Linked DNA regions of Homo sapiens. The protein of the gene in region 1 interacts with the protein of each later gene in a pairwise test. Each region holds a gene or a part of one and is shown in the gene's direction. Other genes may lie near its edges.

Region 1 (3,500 bases):
TGGTAGCAAAGTCCCTTTATTAGTGCAGAGGTAAAGGGGGATTGCTACTGAATATACTCTTTATCTTGGAATGCTTGCAAACCTCAGGTAGGGAGAGGCTGACAACTAGCCTGATACTCTACAGTGGTTTCCAGGTTCATGATTGACAGTCTCTTTTTGGGATATCCATTATATTCAGTAAAGCAGGACTTTGGCCATAACAGAAGCAGAGGGGACACAAGAAGAAAGTTGATATTTTTTAAAGTGCTTATTATTACAAAACTTTAAAAATTTGCCTTAGTATTTCAAACAGGTCAGCAAAAGAAACAGTTGTAAAAGCACACTGTTTTAGATCTTAGCAATAAGCCTTCTTACTAATGGCTAAAATATGAGTAGAGCCTTACTGCTGTGCTTGCTCTGTAGAAACTTCATTGATTTGTGAAGTAAATTAGATTAATTTGGTTAGCAAAAACCTTGCCCCAGTTTTCCCCATTATTACAGAGATGCCTGTTTTAATGACTCAAGCAAGTGCAGTCAGGACAGTCATAGTTTCTTATGTGTATTGTAGAATTAGTGATTGTACGGAGCCTGTGACAAACTCTACAGATTGCTTTTTTGGGTAAATCCTCATTTGTTTCTGTTTTCTCAAAAGTAGAGCACAAAATAGGGAAAACATTTGGATCTTGCAGTTTTTATAATCTGCTTTCACCATTCATCTGCTATCCAGTGCTTGGTGTTTACTAAGCCAGTGAGCGTTCATGAATCTCTAAGAGATTTTCAACAGTGTGTATTTTATTAACACTACACTTTTATTTTTATTTTTAAATATAAGTTTATTTTAATCAGTAAACATGTGGAAAGGGTACGTGAATACTAGAAGTTGAGGTAGGATCATTGATTGGACCTATGATGAAATGATAGGTTTGTTATAGGTGGAGAAGAACAAATAGGCTGAGCCATTTCAAGTAGACCAGCTAAGATTTTACATGGTTTGAGAGATTTGAACAAGCTTGTAACAGAAGCCCAAGAAGACAGGCTGGGTCTGGGATCTGTGGAAATGAGTGAGAGGTAGAAGTTGTTGGATAGTGGTTCTCTTTTCTGGTTGCATACAGGATTGAGATTACTTGGGGCGATGTAGGGGCAGGGCTATGTATATTCGTATACACACCCACAGACACACATGCACACACTCCCAGGCCCCAATCCCAGAAAGTTGTTGTCATCTATTTTTTTTTTTTAAAGGCCCCTAATGATTCTAATGTGTAACCAGGGTTGAGAAATGCTGGTCCAGGGGATTAGAAGGGCAGGAATGTAGGCACAGAGATGTTAGCGTCAGGTTTAGTTATAGGACCCCAAAACCTAGGGAGAGGGGAAGAGATGAATGGGATGGGCTAGGTTAGGGAGGAGAATGATGAAGCCCAAGGGTTCTACATAGGAAGGAAATGTTAATTGACCCATAGCCAGTAAAATACTGACTTTTAACTGTTCTTGTTTCTGTTTCTTAGTGTTTGTTACTAGGAGCCAGCAGGTTTATATTGGCAGCGTGTGCACAAAAACACCTCTGGTTCATTTGCTTTTGATTTAAATAGAAGCAGAGGGCTAGGCTTTCCAGGAGAGTTAATTTTTGGTTTTGGTTTTTTAACTTTTAAATGCCCATATAACTTTCTGAGCCAAATGGGTTTTAGTTATTTTTCCAGTTTGTCTGTATTTTTATATTTAATCAATTTTTAAGAAGTTCCAGTATTTACAAAGTATATATTTTCTTAATTATGACATGCAAATATTCATGAAACTTATATTAAATATTATGTATTTTCTGAAGGCATAAGTTTATTCTTAGTTGGTATAATTTAACTTGTATGAATTACTTGTTTCAGATTCACAATGACATCCTTTCAAGAAGTCCCATTGCAGACTTCCAACTTTGCCCATGTCATCTTTCAAAATGTGGCCAAGAGTTACCTTCCTAATGCACACCTGGAATGTCATTACACCTTAACTCCATATATTCATCCACATCCAAAAGATTGGGTTGGTATATTCAAGGTAAGAAAGCTTTCTGAATATGTTCTCCATGTAAACACTTAAAATTTTCTTTTAAAACAGATTGATAAGTAGCTTTTACTTGCCTTAACTCTGCATTAAGACTCATTTTTGTAAACATCACCATGAAATATTTAACAGTGGGGAGTAGATAAAATGGATGTTGGGAACTCCATTTCACCAGATTTTCCTCTCCCTGATCAGAAAGTTTACCTTCACTTAAGGACTTGTGAAAATTTTTTCAGAATCTTCTTTTCCTATTTTCTCCATTCATTACCTGCAATAAAAAAAGATCTTTTTCTTTGGGTTCTTATATTATTTACCATTTTTTCCAGTCATTTGAAATTAATTTTATACAGCTTGACAGCCATGTTATTATCCCTTCTACTGTCCTGCATGGCTTAAATATTGCTCAGATTGTATTACACAGTTTTAAGAGTATTCTGTTTGTATTACACAGTTTTAAAGTATTCTGTTTAACATGACTGAATAGTAAACTCTTTGATGGCAGGAGTTCTAGTTCTTATATTTTACCAGTGATTTTGTATAATACTTTCTTGAAAATGAAGGTGATCATTACAGTGGTACACCTCACTGTGCAGGACTTTTTCTGGCAATTTTAACTCTTCAAAATGTAGTGGAAAACCAAAACATAAGAATGTCCTCTGAGCAGTCAAAATAATGTCACGAATGTCCAAACAGTAAAACACATTCACTTTTCTCCTGTGTTATTCTGTAGTCTTCCTCAGAATCAGTTTGTTTTATTTTAGTTAAGATTTTTATGGGCTTGAAATTTTGATTGTCTAATCTGTATAAAGTTAAACAACAAGGAAGAAAGAAATGAATAGCTGCTAGAAATTAGGCACATTGAAAGTGTCTAGAAGTAAAAGTCCAGCCTGACGGGAAGGCAGAAAAACATTTGGACAAAACAATTTTGGCATTTAATGACTTAGTTCCTTTCTTTGAATTCCTCATTTCTTGATGTTTCTGAATACAACACAATAGTTATTTACTGTTTACTTTTTGTGTCAGTTTTTTAGGCTTGTCAAATCCCAAAATGGAGAAACATTCATTGTAACAATTTTATGAAATTAGGAGTAGTTTTTAAATTTTATTTCTTATTTTTTGAGACAGGGTCTTATTCTATCACTCAGGCTGGAGTGCAGTGGTGGGATAGTGGCTTACTGCAACCTGACCTCCTGGGCTCAAGTGATCCTTTCCCCGCAGCCTTCCAAATAGCTGGGATTATAGACACAACACCACGCCTGGCTAATTTTTAAAATTTTTTGTAGAGACAGGGTCTCACTATGTTGCCTAGGCTGGTTTTAACTTCCTAGGCTTAAGTGATCCTCCTGTCCCAGCCTCCCAAAGTGCTGGGATTACAGGTGTGAGCCACCGCACCTGGCCTCAGTAGTAGTTTCGATTTTATGGGAGATACTGGTATCAAGTTAAAGATACTGATTGAGAACTGATGTTTT
Region 2 (3,500 bases), on another chromosome or scaffold:
AGCAACTGCACCCGGCCTAAATGTTGGATTTTTAATGTGTTCCTTTAAGGAATAGTGATTTCATTATCTTCTGTTATTTTAGGAAAGAGTTTGGGACCAAATAAAGTTTCTTGGGTTACTGTAATTCTCTAGGCAAAATGAAGTACATATGATACTATGAATAAAAAGTTGTGAGACTATAAAAGGGGAGAGCTATATAGAAGGGGGATAGAAAATAGAGTGGATAAAATATTTGTAAGGGGCTGGGCACAGTGGCTCACACCTCTAATCCCAGCATTTTGGGAGGCTGAGACGGGAGGATCAGTTGAACTCAGGAGTTTGAGATCAGCCTGGGCAACATAGTGAGAGCCCCTTTCTTTTTCTTCTTTTGTTCGTTTGTTCTTTCTTTTTTTCTTTACTTTTTTTTTTTTTTTTTTTTGATGGAGTCTTACTCTGTTGCCCAGGCTGGAGTACAGTGGCGCGGTCTTGGCTCACTGCAAACTCTGCCTTCCGGGTTCAAATGATTCTTCCATGTCAGCCTCCCAAGTAGCTAAGACAGGCGCCTGCCACCACGCCTGACTAATTTTTTATTTTTAGTAGAGATGTGGTTTCACCATGTTGGCCAGGTTGGTCTCGAATTCCTGACCTCAAGTGATCACCTGCCTCGGCCTCCCAAAGTGCTGGGATTACAGGTGTGAGCCACCGTGCCCGGCCTTGAGAGCCCATTTCTATAAAAAATTTAAAAACTTAGCTGGGTGGGGTGGTATGCATCTTTAGTCCCTGCTGCTTGTGGGGCTGAGGTGGAAGGATCGCTCAGGAGGTTGAGGCTACAGTGAGCTGTGACTGTGCCGCTGCACTCCAGCCTGGGCAACAAAGTGAGACCTTGTTTCAAAAAATAATAATTCATATGGAGAGTCTTTATTCTCACAACAACAATTTATTGAGTGTTTACTGTGTGCCAGCAGTGCTCTAGTTGCAGGAACTATAGTGGTGAATAAGACCAACAAGGCCACCTGGTGCTTAAGGAGCTTAGACATTTAAACCTGAGGTTCGAGTTGGATTTCCAGGTGAGCATGCCAGGCTAGGGCAGCCTAACCAAAGTCATGATTATCAGTGCACTTGAATGGTTAAGTGGGGCCAGTGCCTTGAGTTTTCAAAAGGAATGGATAGGGCAGATGGAGATAGGGCCAAGTTGCAAAGGTACCTTATTAGTCCGCTAATGGGTTGGGAATTTTCTTCTTTTTGGAGGAAAGAATTCCAGGTAGAATGTGAAGAATGAGATAGGCATTCCTTTTATTTTTATTTATTTATTTTTTTTGAGACAGAGTCTCACTGCGATGCCCAGGCTGGAGTGCAATGGCACAATCTCCGCTCACTGCAATCTCCACCTTCTGGGTTCAAGTGATTCTCCTGCCTCAGCCTCCCGAGTAGTTGGGATTGCAGGCATGTGCCGTCATGCCAGGCTAATTTTTGTATTTGGTAGAGACAGGGTTTCACCATGTTGGCCAGGCTGGTCTCGAACTCCTGACCTCGGGTGATGCACCACCTCGGCCTCCCAAAGTGTTGGGATTATAGGCGGGAGCCACCATGCCTGGCCCTGACATAACTTTTTAAAGATTTTTCTGGGGCTACGTGCAGTGGCTCATGCCTGTAATCCCAGCACGTTGGGAGGCTGAGGCCGGTGGATTGCTTGAGCCCAGGAGACCAGCCTGGGCAACATGGCAGAACCGTCTCTACAGAAAAATTAAAAGATTATCTGGGTGTGGTGGCACACGCCTGTAGTCCCAGCTACTCAGGAGGCTGAAATGGGAGGAGCAGTTGAGCCCAGGGGTTTGTGGCTGCAGTGAGTGGTGATCATGCCACTGCCTGAGACTCTTTCTCAAAAAAAAAAAACAACAAAAATATTTTTCTTTATTATCCTTAAGTTGAGTGAATACAAATTTTTTTTGAGATGGAGTTTTGCCCTTTCACCCAGGCTGAACTGCAGTGTCAGGATATCTGCTCACAGCAACCTCTGCCTCCTGGGTTCAAGTGATTCTCCTGCCTCAGCCTCCCGAGTAGCTGGGATTACAGGCGCGTGCCACCACACCCAGCTAATTTTTTATATTTTTGGTAGAGACGAAGTTTCACCCTGTTGGCCAGGCTGGTCTTGAACTCCTGACCTCAAGTGATCGCCCACCTTGGCCTCCCAAAGTGCTAGGATTACAGAGGTGAGCCACTGAGCCCAGCCCAGTGAATATAAATTTTATTGGTTTTATTTATTTTAGTTTGGTTTATTTATTTTGATTTCTTGGTCATCAGATTAAATAAATCTGATAGTTATTTTTCTTTAGTTGTCAATTTCCAGTCTTGGTTTTGAGTTTGACTGTTGTCATGATACTCTTCTGAATCCTTTTAGCCTTTACCTGTACCTCTTTTCCTTACTTTTTCAGAACTCTTATGATTCCACTTAAAGAAGCAGTGTTTTTTACTTCTGTGTGGGCAGCTTCTCTCAGCAGAAGTGGGATTGATGTTCAGTCAGTCAGTTTTCACACTCAGCCTACAGGGCCTTGTAAAAGTAAGGAGCAGGAGCAGGGTGAAACTAAAAAGTAATCTTGCTTTTTTAAAGTTATCTTTTTTTTTTTTTTTTTGAGACGGAGTTTCGCTCTTGTTGCCCAGGCTGGAGTGCAATGGCGCCATCTCCGCTCACCGCAACCTCCGCCTCCTGGGTTCAAGCGATTCTCCTGCCTCAGCCTCCCGAGTAGCTGGGATTACAGTCATGTGCTGCCACGCCTGCCTAATTTTGTATTTCTAGTAGAGAAGGGGTTTCTCCATGTTAGTCAGGCTGGTCTCAAACTCCCGACCTCAGGTAATCTGCCCGCCTTGGCCTCCCAAAGTGCTGGGATTACAGGTGTGAGCCACTGCGCCCGGCCTAAAGTTCTCTTCTATATTCCTGAACTGCTAGGAGAGGAAACTATGTGATCTATGTGTTATACAGATTTATCGGAACATATTTGTAGCAGCTGATAATAGTAAATGTGATTTTAAAATACTTTAAAGTAGCCAATATAACTGAGATTTGATAAGTTGTTTGATTAGTTGTTAGGAATTTTGGCTTTAATTTACAGTGTTTTAAGTTTTGTTTCTGTTCTCTTTCATGTCTGTTCAAAATAAGGGACCTCATTCCTCTTTGCTCAGACTCTGCCACTTAATAGGTAGATGGTGTAAATTCCTAAATTATTAACTTGACTTTAAATAATTTTAAAACCTACCTAAATGAGTATTTTCTAGTTAAGTGACAATTAATCTAAAGTGGAAATCTATCAGCAGGGACTTAATGCATATGTGGTATTTATACCTGGTTAAATTAAAAACCCATTTACTGAGCATTTACATGCCAGGTGGTAATGGGCACATAAAATAAGCAGTTTGGGGCAGGGCACGGTGGCTCACGCCTGTAATCCCAGCACTTTGGGAGGCCGAGGCGGGCGGATCACCTGAAGTTCGGAGTTTGAGACCAGCCTGACCAACTTGGAGAAACA
Region 3 (3,500 bases), on another chromosome or scaffold:
AATAGAGCAAGAGTCCGTCTCAAAAAAATTGTGTTTTAATCATTCTTTATAATATTAACACAATAGAATGTGAATCCTGGGAATTTATAAGAAAAATGTTCATTTTAAAATACATTCTCTATGACATGTAGTGCTTCCATTTGTTCTGTATATATTGTATTTCTTTCTCTTTAGTTGGTGCAAAGAAACAGGTTAATATGCAGAAGAAATCCATATAGGATCTTTGAGTATTTGCAACTCAGCCTAGAAGAGGTATGTTTTCAACATATTATTATTTCAGCCATCGGTCTCTGGGCCTGAACTACACTATATGTGAACCTACCTCACAGTGTAGTTCTGTATGTAATTCAATTATTGAATATTGTAATTCAGTATTGAAATCACTATGGGTAGCTCCCAAGTAGGCCTGCCTTTCACTCCTCAGCCTTTATTTCATCAGTTCTAAGATATGTGTTTGCAATCATTCCACAGAAGATTCGAGGGGTTTTTCTGAGTACTTCTTTTCTCATTAAGATTTTAGATTGTTAGGCCGGGTGCGGGGGCTCACACCTGTGATCCCAGCACTTTGGGAGGCCAAGGCAGGAGGATCACCTGAGGTCAGGAGTTCGAGACCAGCCTGGCCAACATGGTAAAACCCTGTCTCTACCAAAAATACAAAAATTAGAGTGATTGCTCATGCCTGTAATCCCGACTACTCAGGAGACTGAGGCAGGAGAATTGCTTGAACCCGGGAGGTGGAGGTTGCAGTAAGCCAAGATCGTGCCATTGCACTCCAGCCTGGGTGACAGAATGAAACTCTGTCTCAAAAAAAAAAAAAAAAAAAAAGGCTTTATGTTGATGGCTAGGTGTGATGGCTTATGCCTGTAGTCCAGCCACTTGTGTGGCTGACGTGGGAGGATTGCTTGAGCCCAGGAGGTCACGTCTGCAGTGAGCCACGATTGCACTACTGCGCTCCAGCTTGGGCGAAAGAGTGAGACTCTGTGTCAAACAAAAAAAAGAATAAAAAGATTTCAGATTGTTAACAGATGCTGACTGGTGATGCCGGGGGTAGGGGGGTGGAAAGAAGAAAAAAGTGGATTTCGGATTGGCTGAATATTTTGTTACTAATTTTCACTAGCTTTTTCAAAAATACTATAATTCATATACCATACAATTTATCCACTTAAAGAGTACAAGTCGCTATTGTTTGGTATATTCATGGAGTCTCTACTTTTCATATACTGTGCTACATGATTCAGATCATGTAGTGACTGCTAGTTAAGTAAATGGATTTATTTCCTTCTGCAGGATCCCTCTACTTAATGCAGTAGCTACATTCTTGAAAGTTAGCTTGGGCCTGGTGCCATGGCTCACACCTGTAATCCCAGCACTCTGGGAGGCCAAGGCAGGCAGATAGCTTGAGCCCAGGAGTTTAAGGTCAGCCTAAGCAACATGGCAAAACCCCATCTCTACAAAAAATACAAAAATTAGCCAGGTGTGGCGGTGCATGCCTGTAGTCTCAACTACTTGGGTGGCTGAGGTGGGAGGGTTGCTTGAGCCTGGGAGGTCGAGGCTTTAATGAACCGAGGTCACGCCACTGCACAAGCGAGATCCTGTTTCAAAAAAAAAAAAAAAAAGTGGCTAAAAGTGGCCTTCCATAAACTGCATCATATTGTCCCAGTGACCTGGAGTTCCTCTAACCTGTGGTCACTTTATGCTCAGACCCTCTTTTCTTGCTTATGTTGATAGTGCACACAGAAATGTCTTTTCTGCCTTTGAAGCTAGGACCGCTTCTTGGGCTCCCCTCTTCTCCAGGAGCTCTGTGATGGCTTTCTTTGATAGTTCCTGCAGTGTCCAGTGTGGTTCTTGGCATACAGGTAGGTCCCAAGAAGTGCTATGGAACACATCCATGTTGGTAATTTTATAGCTGAGACCACAGGAAAGTAATTGTGGGGGCCGGGCGCCGTGGCTCACACCTGTAATCCCAGCACTTTGGGAGGCCGAGGCGGGTGGATCACGAGGTCAGGAGATCGAGACCATCCTGGCTAACATGGTGAAACCCCATCTCTACTAAAAATACAAAAATTAGCTGGGTGTGGTGTCACACACCTGTAATCCCAGCTACTCGGGAGGCTGAGGCAGGAGAATCACTTGAACCCGGGAGGCGGAGGTTGCAGTAAGCTGAGATTGCACCACTGCACTCCAGCCTAGGTGAAAGAGTAAGACTCCGTCTCTAAAATAAAATAAAATAGAATAAACAATTCAAAATTCCTTTTCTCGGTTGCACCAGCCACGTCTCAAACACTGAACAGCCACGTGTGGCCACTGGCTACTGTATTGAACAGCAGATGCGTAGGCATTCCCAGCACTGTGGAGCGCTTTATAGCCCACATGTACCCGTTCTTAGATGTTTGGCCTGTCAGAACCTCAGATTTCTTCTCTGTAAAGTGGGGGCTATGTAACATCTTGTTCATAGGATGTTCTGGAAATTAAATAATACATGTAATTGGGTCAGGACAGTACCTGATAATATAGTAAATGCTCAATAAATGTTAGTGCCTGCTATTTTTGTCATTATTAAGTTACTTGTAAAAGCTAATTAGCAGCTTGTTGGAACCTTCTTTTTTACAATCACAAAAATGCCCATTGGGTACCTACTATGTGCCAGGCATTGGGCTAAGTGCTACCGATACTGAAATAAGTAGAATGTGACTTTGGTCTTAAAGATAGCCCAGAAATCATTACAGTTCAGTGTGATAAGCATAGTGTGGCATATGGATCTTGTCAGTATCGCTCTTCCTGTTTCCTTGGGCCCAATGCCTGACATCTATTAGGTGCGTAATACTTATTAAATGAATGAATGTACAAGATAGGGAATTTGCATCGAAGCTGGTGGAGACCATCTTGCAGGGCTGAGGTGGAAAGCTTTTGCAGTCATGATAGCTGAGGATAGTAAAGGATAAATGGGGCTTGCCACATGGACACAGGGTAGTAAAGGCTCTTCCAGATAGCTCTGCCAAAACGAATGCCAGATGGGGGAGGGTGTGTCCATGAGTCAGGGTCTGGCCTGGTCCTGGGCCAGCAGGGCACTGCAGGGGATTCCGTAGGGGAGTGGCAGTGACCAGAGCTAGCATCAGTATGGAGGGTGGGCTGGAGGCCTGGCCTGGGAGGTGGCAGCTGTAGGCGAAGGGTATTCCGTGTCAGATGCTGGGAGTTCAGCTGCACTGTTCCAGTTGACCAGCTGCTGTCTTTTATTGACAAATTTTTTAAAGGCTGCTGCTGCCTGCTGCCTCCTCTTGAACACCCCCTGATGAAAGGCAAGAGTAATAGGAGACAGGAGATGAGGTTACTCTGCCTTCTTAGAAGCTGCCTGGCACCTGAGAACATTTCAGAGATGTGTTCCAGAAGTTTTCAGGGAGCACACCGTTAAACCTAGCTCTACTTGTCTTTCTGTTTTGGCAGATTTCTTTTGAATGAATCACCTATGTTTGGTGCACTGCATGTACCCGCGGAGTGTTTCT
Region 4 (3,500 bases), on another chromosome or scaffold:
ACTTACTAAGCCAGGATCCCCACCCTCAGTTTCAGGAAGTAACATTTATTGAGCACCTACTAGGTGCTAGGTACTGGGCTAGGCAGTCCCTTCTTAGAAATGTTTTCTCATTACGACTCATAACTATACTACAATATTAATGTTTTTATTCCGAAGTTACAGAGAAGGAAACTGAGGTTCAAGGTACTTTGCCCTAGTTGTCACTAATGGTATGTGGTACAGCCAGGATTTAAACCTGGAGACTCCAAAGTTGATGTTCTGTAGGAGAGAGAGTGGCTGCTTCCCGGGCATGGCCTTCGAAGGCCTAAGGGCCGCTCAGCTCCCATGGTTCACGTTCAGAATGGGACATGCCCAGCTCCCCGTTATTATTGAAAAGAGGATTGTCTTTCCCTTTGGGCTTTAACCACCACAAGCACCTGATCTGCCTTTGACCCAAGCTGACACTGGGCCACCCCAGCTGACCCTAGTCATCACTATGGCAGTAGGGAGTCACAAACACAGCACACGGAGTCCAAAGTCCCAGAATCTTGTCCTGGCTCTCTCCCGAACAAGGTGTGACCTCAGGCAAGTCATTTCCTGTCTTAGATTGGTGTTTATCTCATCTGCAAAACATAAGCGCTCTGCCACATGTCTGCATCTTCCTCTGTTCCAGCCTAGTCCACCCCTCTCCCTGCAGGGTTCCTTTCTCAGCTCCTGTCCCTCCCCCGCTAGCATCTCCCCATCAGCCCCTGGGGTCTCCCCTGAAGATTCTGCTCCCAGCTGTACTCCAGTCCTTTAGAGGCCCCAGTATGTTGGGATCTCAGCATCAATCCGACTGGCCCAGTCTTCCCCTCCAGCCCTACCTTGCTGGGGACCTGGGGCTGGGGTCCAACTGTGAGGGAGGAGGGAGGTAACCAGTCCTCTTGTGCGTTTCAGTCTGTCCCAAGTTCCTCGTGGACTCCAGCACCAAGGACTTGCTGACAGTCAAGGTCGGGGACACAGTTCGTGTGCCCGTCTCCTTTGAAGTGAGTGTACCTGCAGGGGTGTGGGGAGGGAAGCCCAGAGAGGCCAAGGGGGCCAGACTCAGCCCTGTGGCTCTCTTTTCTTCCCTGTTCCTTTTTGGCCCCTAGTCAGTGCTTGTGGAAATCACTGACTGGGCTTGTGGAAATCAGGTGAGAGACATGAGGCAGGAAGGATTCAGGTCCTCCTTGAAGGTACTGCCCTCACTTGGCGGCTGGGTGGCCATTCTGCTCCAGGCCTGCAAATCCCTCTAGTGGTAGCTTCAGCTACTGCACCTCCAAACTAAGGCTCTTCGGTTCTCCACCTCTCCTAGTCTGGGAATTCAGGGAGCCGGTCGTGCAGATGATCCCCTTTGACTTCACAATGTATTTTTGTGCAAGCACATGACCTATATTTGACTCAGGGTGATCCTTAACCAACACCAACACCACCTGACTTTACAACAGTAGGGTGGTGGCTAAAAGTACAAACTGCCTGGGTTCAAATTTTGATGTCATCACTCACAGCCGTTTGACTTTGGACAAATATTATTTATTTATTTATTTATTTATTTATTTATTTATTTTGAGATGGAGTCTCACTCTGTCACCCAGGCTGGAGTGCAGTGGCACGATCTCGGCTTACTGCAACCTCCACCTCCCGGGTTCTAGCGATTCTCCTGCTTTAGCCTCCCAAGTAGCTGGGATTACAGGCGCATGCCATCACGCCCGGCTAATTTTTGTATTTTTAGTAGAGATGGGGTTTCGCCGTGTTGGCCAGGCTGGCCTCTCAAACTCCTGACCTCACGTAGTCTGCCCACCTCGGCCTCCCAAAGTGCTGGGATTACAAGTGTGAGCCACTGTGCCCAGCCAGAACAAATATCTTAACATCTCTGTGTTTCACCTTCCTCATCTGTCAAAAGGGGATAATAATAGTAACCTACCTCAAAGGTCTGAGGGTTCAAGGAATTAATATATTGAAAGTGTATATGTAGGGCCTGGCATATGACAGCACCCAATATGTTTTAATATTATTATTGTTTAAAATCATCATCATCTGTGTAGGAATTCAAACCAGTCTATCTTACTCTAAATGACTTGTTCTTAACCACAATAATGACAATGATAATGATGGCAAAAATATTTAATGCACATTGAGTAGTTACCATGTCCTAGGCCTTGTTCTCTCTGCTTTCCGTGTATTTATTATTAACGCCTTAAATTCTCAGAACAATCCTGTGAGGTCAGTTAGTGACTATCAGCATCTTCGTTTGACTCTGGTGCCCACCGTGCCCTGTACTGAGGGCCCCGTAGGGAGTTGACGGCATGGTCACCAAGCAGCTGGGCTGGCCTTCCCACCCTGCTCAGGGTCACCACAGTTCAAGGCCAGGACACCGCAATCTTCCTCCTAGACTATTGCCAAATTATCTCCTACATGGTCTTGGCTGCCAGGGTGGTTAACACTCCCCTCCCCACACATCCCTTCTCATTCCCATCCCACCCCCTGCCATGTGAATCCAGAACTCATTATGCTTTCCTGCTCAGAATCTGACAACAGCGGCTCCTGGCTGAGAGGATAATGTCCAGATGTCTGTAGAGGTGTGACGTGGAGGGCACTTTGCATTTTTGCCGAACCTCTTCGTCCAACTTCCTTTCTTGTTCTACCGCCCCCCTACCATACCCGCCTGCCAACCTCACACTTTATCACCACCCCTCTTTCCCACCTGTGTTTTCTTGTCGACGTTGTGTTTTCTGGTCGACTTTCTCCTTGTAGAAGACTCTTCTCACCGCTTCTACCTTTGGCCTAGCTTAAATGCCATCACCTCCATGAAACTGCCAGCTTCCCCTTCTCAACTTTTCCTTCCTCTCCTTTCTCAGGCCATGCCCATGCCTGAGGTGACCTGGCTGAAGGATGGCTTGCCCTTGCCCAAAAGAAGTGTGACTGTCACTAAGGATGGCCTCACCCAGCTTCTGATCCCTGTGGCTGGACTCTCAGACAGTGGTCTCTACACTGTGGTGCTGAGGACCCTGCAGGGGAAGGAGGTTGCCCACAGCTTCCGTATCAGGGTGGCAGGTGAGGCAGGCCTTGCTCTGGGCTCTGGACGCTGGCTCGGCCACTCACCAAGGCAAAGAGGTGTCCACTGGTCTGATCATAGGTCTCAGCCACTCTACCAGGGCTGGGTATGCAAAGTGACCATTCTCCACCTTTCCTCCATGCTTGATGATAGAAAGTAGAAAGGACCCCAGAAGATCCCCTGGGGACTTCCATTGTCCTTCTGCCTCAGGAGCCTAGAGACAGTCATGTCATGTCTCCTCTCCGACCTCAGTTATCCTTCCCGTTGAGTCAGTGAGCAGAGGCGGTTACCACTGTTACATCACTCCAAAGACCCAGGGGACAAAATTGTCTGCAGCCGTTGCACAGGATAAAGGCTTTCCTCCCCAGCTGTGGCTCCACACAGCCCCTGCCCTGGAGGAGCTTCTGGATATCCAGAAATGATCAAATAGACTAACAGTGGGGGCTCT

Evidence for each region.
Region 2: the proteins of TAX1BP1 (region 1) and ARK2N interact in binary tests that used the Homo sapiens proteins (3 or more experiments, as listed by UniProt).
Region 3: the proteins of TAX1BP1 (region 1) and TSEN2 interact in binary tests that used the Homo sapiens proteins (3 or more experiments, as listed by UniProt).
Region 4: the proteins of TAX1BP1 (region 1) and IGFN1 interact in binary tests that used the Homo sapiens proteins (3 or more experiments, as listed by UniProt).

What each region holds. Positions count from the first base shown.
Region 1 is NC_000007.14:27,746,662-27,750,161, forward strand, and holds part of TAX1BP1 (tax1-binding protein 1), read left to right. Parts: intron 1-1,856; 5' UTR 1,857-1,863; coding exon 1,864-2,025; intron 2,026-3,500.
Region 2 is NC_000018.10:46,177,034-46,180,533, forward strand, and holds part of ARK2N (protein ARK2N), read left to right. Parts: intron 1-3,500. UniProt on the Homo sapiens protein: AMPK substrate important for exercise capacity and skeletal muscle function.
Region 3 is NC_000003.12:12,504,980-12,508,479, forward strand, and holds part of TSEN2 (tRNA-splicing endonuclease subunit Sen2), read left to right. Parts: intron 1-174; coding exon 175-252; intron 253-1,728; exon of another isoform or gene 1,729-1,856; intron 1,857-3,500.
Region 4 is NC_000001.11:201,221,824-201,225,323, forward strand, and holds part of IGFN1 (immunoglobulin-like and fibronectin type III domain-containing protein 1), read left to right. Parts: intron 1-915; coding exon 916-1,004; intron 1,005-2,855; coding exon 2,856-3,051; intron 3,052-3,500.